Homo sapiens: one gene and its partner. The protein of the gene in region 1 purifies or fractionates together with the protein of each later gene. This does not show direct contact. Each region holds a gene or a part of one and is shown on either strand. Other genes may lie near its edges.

Region 1 (3,500 bases):
TGATGAGCTGGGAGAGTGGGAGAAGCATCACCCCCTCCCTGCCGCAGTCACTGGGAGAACATCTCCCTGGCAAGGTGCTGAGCAAAGCCCCTCCTACACCAGGCTGGGCTCCCTCCGCCCTGATCGGGTTCTGTGCGTGCCCTCCATGGTTTCCAAGGCCCTTGTTGGATGCAGTCTCCTTCCATCCTCAGCAGAGCCTTGTGAATAAATTGTGATCTGAGTTACCACTCCCACTGACAGATGGAAAAGCAGGCCCACAGAACCTGTGATTTTTTTTGGTGGCTGGAAAAACAGGAGTTAGGGCTGCACTTTTTGAATTCCAAGTTGATGACCCTTTTTGCAATTCCTTATTGCTGTCCGAGGAAAAAGAGTTGCCAGTGACCTGCTGAGAGTCATGAATGACAATAATGGCCAGGATTGAGTGTTCCTCTGTGCTCAGTACTGTACAAAGGGGATTTGTTAACCTGGAAAAAAAACAATCAATGGAGTTTTATTACTTGACATAATTAAGGAGGATGCTGGAAGTATTCTCCAAAGCAGCGTCTCTCCCAGGAGGGTTTCATGGGGTGATGGAGAGGGGAAAGGGTGTGTCATTGCATGTGGAGGAGGGGTCCCAGTGGCACAGATGCAGTGAGTCATCACGCCAGCACATAGTCACATGTTCTGGTGATGAAGCTGTAGCTCCTCCCGGGTGGAGACTGTAGCATGGTAATGAGGAAAGTCCACTTGGGATCATCTCTATAAGTTGCTGGTTTCACCTGACTTGGTGACTGCATTCCATGCAAGTTGTGGGAAAAACCAGGCTGAAGGGCAGGAGCCTGTGAAACAGGCTGATTGTTCAAGCTGATGAAACTCCTATAGTCCTTGGAGACCCTCCCTGTCTGCTACACTTGTACATGGTATTTTATTTGATTGTTGTATTATCCTTAGGATTTGGGATTGTCATTCCCATTTCACGAAATGGGAAACTGAGGATTCCAAGGTTTAGTAGCCTCTCCCAGTGTCAGTCACTAGCAAGCAGCAGAGCCTGGACACGAAGCCAGGTAGTCGGGTTCCAGGGCACATTACTTCTATTGATTTGATGGGAAACCTTCATTGAGTGCCTGTCCTGTGCTAAGGGTATGCTCACAATTAAGTACTCTATTCCTGTGTGTCGTTATGAGCCCCTCTGGATCACACCTGAGTTTATACTGATAAGGTGATTAGTAGGTTGGGGCCCCTAGACAGCCTCAGGATGGAGCTACTTCTTAGAATGACCAAGCAATTAGGAGGTTAGAACTTTCAGCTCCACCTACCGACCTCCTGGAAGGAAGCAGGGGCTGGAGATTAAGCTCTATAAAAACTTACAGATGTGATAAGCATCTGGGTTGAACACATGGAGGGCACTGGGAGGGTGGCGTGGCTGGAGCAGGCGTGGAAGTTCCATGCCCACCCCCTCTCCTACCCTGCCTCTGTGTCATTCCACCTGGCTGTTCCTGAGTTGTATCCTTTATAATAAACCAGTAACTATAAAAAAAGCGTTTGCCTGAGTTCTTCGAGCCATTCTAGCAAATTATTGCACCTGAAGAGGGGGTTGTGCAAACCCCTGATTAAGCTTGTTGGTCAGAAGTCTAAGTGGCCCAGGACTTGTGACTGCCATCTGAAGTAGGGTAGGTCTTGTGAGACTGAGCCCTTAAATCAGACGGGAGTACAGTGACGTGATCATAGCTAATTGCAGCCTTGACCTCCCCCAGGCTCAAGTGAACCTCCCACCTCAGCCTCCCGAGTAGCCGGGACCACAGGCATGTACCAGCAGGCATGGCTAATTTTTGTAGAGATGGGGTCCCACTACGTTGCCCAGGATGGTCTTGGAACTCTTGGGCTCAAGGGATTCTCCTGCCTCAGCCTCCCAAAGTGCTGGGATTAAAGGCACGAGGCACCACACCTAGCTGGGAGTTCTAATTGAATTGTCAGACACCCAGTTGGTGTCTGGAGACTTAGAGAATTGACTGTGTTAGAAAACACCTCAAACCCATTTTACAGATGCAGCAACTGAGGATTAGAGAGGTTTTGGGAACTTTCCCAGAATTTATTTAGTGGTAAGTGGAGGAACTGGGATTTGAATGTGTGTAATTTGACTTTAAGTCCTATACTCCAAGTGACTGCTTGATTTTGCTGTCCCATTGAGTACCTCTGTGTGCCAGGTGCTCACAAGCATTTAGTGATCAAAAGGTTCAGAACCCATTTCTTGCCTGGGCTTTAACCTCTCCATCAGCTTTGGCACAAGTCTGTGTGTGAGCCTGGCATGTACTCAACCTGTCTTGAGTCTTGGTTTCCTAAGAATAAAAATAAGATCAACCTTCTGGCTTTTGTAATAAATGTTAAGTGTTAGATGAATAGTAAGTACACCTGAAATGTCATGTCTCCTCCACTTTTCTCTCCATAAATGTTCATTTATCTTTTCTTCCTGGCCTCTTCTGGACCCTGGAATGCTGCAGCTTGGATGCACCGGTGGCCTGTGTGAAGCCTGTGTGTTCTTGGAAACTGGCCAGAGGCCATAATTCCCAACCCACGTGTTCCCATCCCCTCTTTCTCGTGGCTCTCTGCCATTTTTTGATGGGGGTTGGTGAGGGCGTCTGACCTGAAGGAGGAGGCCAGATGCAGCTATTTATAAAGTTTTTAGGGAATAGAGATCTCAAGAGAAGATTGCATGTCCTTGCTGTCCCCCTGGCCGCCAGTGGTCACTGAGCCATCTTCTCCCCATTTCCCAGGTATGATCGGGTACGGCATGGCCAAGGGTGCTGTTCACCAGCTCTGCCAGAGCCTGGCTGGGAAGAACAGCGGCATGCCGCCCGGGGCAGCCGCCATCGCTGTGCTCCCGTAAGTGCTTGGGGTTCCCTGGCTGCTGCCCACCTCTGCCCCACTGCTGCAGGTGACCGTTTGTCTGACTGTAGCTTTCCACAGGCGACCTGGGTGTGCTCTCACCTCTGGTTCTGAAACACACCAAAGTCTCTTAAGATACTTATTATCTTAATCTGTTTGAATTGCTCTAACAAAATACCTTAGACTGGGTGATTTATAAACAGCAGAAATGTATTGCTCACAGTTCTGGAGGCTGGGAAGTCCAAGATGAAGGCACCAGCAGATTTGGTGCCTGGCGAGGGCTCATTCCTCATAGATGGCGCCTTCTATATGTGCTCACACGGTGGAAGGGGCAAATGGGCTCCCTCCAGCTTCCTTTATAAGCATGCTAATCCCCTCCTAAAGGCCCCCACTTGTCTCCTGCAGACCCCACCTCTTAATACTATTATGTTGCAGTTTGTGTTTTGTATGTGAGTTTGAGGGGGATACATTCAGACCATAGCAATACTTCCAGTTTTGGGTTCTCCTGGGCTGTCCAGAATGTTTGATTGGCTGGTTGGATGGGTCTGTCTTTTTTGCCTCTTTTTTTCCTCTCCCTTTCTTTTCTCCCTTCATTTCTTCCTTTAAAATTAGACTACACATTTTACTTTTTTATATGT
Region 2 (3,500 bases), on another chromosome or scaffold:
TCAAGCAATTCTCCTGCCTCAGCTACCCAAGTAGCTGGGATTGCAGGTGCCTGACACCATGCCCGGCTAGTTTTTATATATTTTTATAGTAGAGATGGGGTTTTGCCATGTTGGCCAGTTTGGTCTCAAATTCCGGACCTCAGGTGATCCACCTGCCTCAGCCTCCCAAAGTGCTGGGATTACAGGTGTGAGCTGCCATGCCCAGCCCTTAATTGCTTATTCTTTATCTTAGTTTTCAATATTTAGAAAGCTATCCCATTTTACATGAGGAAACTGAGGTTTTGGGTCAGCAACCATGAGGTAGACCTAGGATTTGAACTAAGGACCCTGACTGTAGATTCCCTGCTCTTAACCATAACATATATAAATTTCTTGTGTTTTACTCATTTGCATAGCCCTCAGATAGTGAGTGCACAATAACTTGTAATAGATTTGTATTTTGGCCTTTGGAAGTCAAGGTCTCATCTTCTAACCTGGTATTTTTTTTCTCCCTCTAGGTTACGGGTAAATTCCGGGGAGGTGTGAACCCCTTCACCAATGGCTGCTGTAACAATGTCAGCCGTGTTCTCTGCAGTTCTCCAGCACCCAGGTACACCTATCCCTCTGGTCTAGTGTTTACCATTGGTCAGAACTTTTATCTTCTTTGGGCTTGTTCTGGTAAAGGAGGGGTCTGGTGAGAGCCTTTAGGAAGGGTTCTCTATCTTAGAATGTTAAGTACCCACTCTATCTTAGAATGGTAAGTAGTCTATCTTAGAATGGTAAGTACCTACATGCCCATCCTTTAGTGCAGTGGTCCCTAACCTTTTTGGCAGCAGGGACCGGTTTCATGGGAGACACTTTTTCCACAGATGGGGGCTGGGGTGGGGTGGTTTCAGGATGAAACTGTTCCACCTCAGATCATGAGGCATTAGATTCTCATGGCTGGGTGTGGCGGCTCACACCCAGCACTTTGGGAGGCCGAGGTGGGCGAATCACTTGAGGTCAGAAGTTCAAGTCCAGCCTGGCCAATATGGTGAAACCCCTTCTCTACTCAAAATACAAAAATTAGCTGGGCAAGGTGGCAGGCACCTGTAATCCCAGCTACTTGGGAGGCTGAGGCAGGATAATTGCCTGAACCCAGGAGGCAGAGGTTGCAGTGAGCTCAGAGCACACATACAACCTAGATTGCTTGCATGTGTAGTTTACAACAGGGTTCTAGGGTTTGCGCTCCTAAGAGAATCTAATGCCTCCGCTGATCTGACAGGAGATGGAGCTCAGGTGATAATGCTCACTGGCCCACTGCTTACCTCCTGCTATGTGGCCCAGTTCCTAACAGGCCATGAACCGGTACTGGTCTGCGGCCCAGGGGTTGGGGACCCCTGCTTTAGTGGACACTGTGAATTCCATTGATATTCTTCAGGTATTAAGGTAAATCTTTGAGAATTGAGGGTGAATAAGATACACTCTAAAGTGCTTTCCTTGAGCTAGGTATCTGCTCACAAAGGCCTAGTCCTGCTGCAGTCCTTCACAGAATCAATTCTGTTTATTGCTAAGTAAGTGATGGCCAAAACTGCAATTACTTTTTTACCAACCTAATAAAAATGGTTTACAGAAACAGTAGATACTTTAAAATATAAATGAATGAAAGCTCTCTCGCTGTGTCTCTCTCTCTCTCTCTCTCGACACTTAGGTATTTGGGGAGACCAAAGAAAGAGAAGACAATTGTAATCAGACCTCCCTTCCTTCGACCAGAAGTTTCAGATGGGCAGATAACTGTGAAGATCATGGATAATGGCATCCAGGGAGAGCTGAGGAGAACAAAGGTGAGGAATTTAGAGAAGTCAAGCTAGATAACATGGAAGTCTCACCCAAGGCAAAGAGACGGAAGCTTGCTTTAGTTTCCTTTGTGTTTTTTTTTTTTTTTTTGAGACAGAGTCTTGCTCTGTTGCCCAGGCTGGAGTGCAGTGGTGCTCAGTGCAAACTCTGCCTCCCAGGTTCAAGCAATTCTCCTGCCTCAGCCTCCCGAGTAGCTGGGATTACAGGTGTCCGTCACCTTGCCTGGCTAATTTTTGTATTTTTAGTAGAGATGGGGTTTTGCCATGTTGGCCAGGCTGGTCTCGAACTTCTGACCTCAGGTGATCTGCCCACCTCGGCCTCCCAAAGTGCTAGGATTACAAGCATGAGCCACCACGCCTGGCCCATATTTCTTACAGTGTTTATCACTTACTAATTTGGGTTAAAATTACTTAAATACAAATCTTGTTTTCTACATTAGATTTTTTTTTTTGAGAGGGAGTCTTGCTCTGTTACCTAGGCTGGACTCCAGTGGTATGATCTCAGCTCACTGCAACCTCTGCCTCCCAGGTTCAAGCGATTCTCGTGCCTCAGCCACCTGGGTAGCTGGGACTACAGGCATGCGCCACCACGCCTGGCTAATTTTTTTATTTTCAGTAGAGGCAGGGTTTTCCTATGTTGGCTAGGCTGGTCTCAAACTCCTGACCTGAAGTGATCCAACCCCCTCAGCCTCCCAAAATGCTAGGATTATAGGTGTGAGCCACTGCACCCGGCCCTACATTAGACTTTAAGTTCATTAACAATAGAAAATGAATTCATTCATTTCCATGTCTTCATAGGACTTAACAGCTTACAGCTAGATGGTAGGAGCTAAACAAGTAGTTGTTGGTTTAAATGGGCAAATAAGTGACAGAATTAAAACCTTTTTTAAACCCTTTCTTCTGCCAGGTACAGTAACTCATGCCTATAATCCCAGCACTTAGCGAGGCTGAGGTGGGAAGATCGCTTGAGTTCAGGAGCTCAAGACCAGCCTGGACAACATAGCGAGACTCCATCTCTAAAACAGACTAAAATAAAAAATAGAAAAATTTTCTGGCTGGGCGTAGTGGCTTATGCCTGTAATCCCAACACTTTGGGAGGCTGAGGTGGGTGGATCACCTGAGGTTGGGAGCTCGAGACCAGCCTGACCAACATGGAGACACCCTGTCTCTATTAAAAATACAAAATTAGCTGGGCATGGTGGCGCATGCCTGTAGTCCTAGCTACTTGGGAGGCTGAGGTAGGAGAATTGCTTGAACCCGGGAGGCGGAGGTTGCAGTGAGCCGAGATCATGCCATTGCACTCCGCCTGGGCAACAAGACCGAAACTCCATCTCAAAAAAAAATTAGCCAGGTGTGGTGGCACATGCCTGTAATCCTAGCTGCTTGGGAGGCTGAGGCATGAGAATCGCTTGAACCTGCGAGCCAGAGGTTGCAATGAGCCGTGATCACGCCACTGCACTCCAGCCTGGGTGACTGAGCAAGACTCCATTTCAAAAAAAAAAACCCAACTTTTCTTCATCTAATGCTATACCCAAACTGATTCTTGTGCCTTGTCTTCCAGTATAGTTGAGAAATATATGATAGGCAGTGGCTCATGTCTATAATCCCAACATTTAGGGTGGCCAAGGTGGGGTGATATTGCTTGAGGCCAGGGGTTCAAGACCAGCTTGGGCAACATGGCGAGAC

Evidence for each region. The genes of interacting proteins can lie anywhere in the genome.
Region 2: the proteins of QDPR (region 1) and ZDHHC5 purify together in Homo sapiens (co-immunoprecipitation; one large-scale study listed by IntAct). This does not show direct contact.

Annotation. Positions count from the first base shown.
Region 1 is NC_000004.12:17,491,591-17,495,090, reverse strand, and holds part of QDPR (dihydropteridine reductase), read left to right. Parts: intron 1-2,750; coding exon 2,751-2,859; intron 2,860-3,500. UniProt on the Homo sapiens protein: Catalyzes the conversion of quinonoid dihydrobiopterin into tetrahydrobiopterin.
Region 2 is NC_000011.10:57,692,114-57,695,613, forward strand, and holds part of ZDHHC5 (palmitoyltransferase ZDHHC5), read left to right. Parts: intron 1-497; coding exon 498-589; intron 590-1,669; coding exon 1,670-1,802; intron 1,803-3,500. UniProt on the Homo sapiens protein: Palmitoyltransferase that catalyzes the addition of palmitate onto various protein substrates such as CTNND2, CD36, GSDMD, NLRP3, NOD1, NOD2, STAT3 and S1PR1 thus plays a role in various biological processes including cell adhesion, inflammation, fatty acid uptake, bacterial sensing or cardiac functions.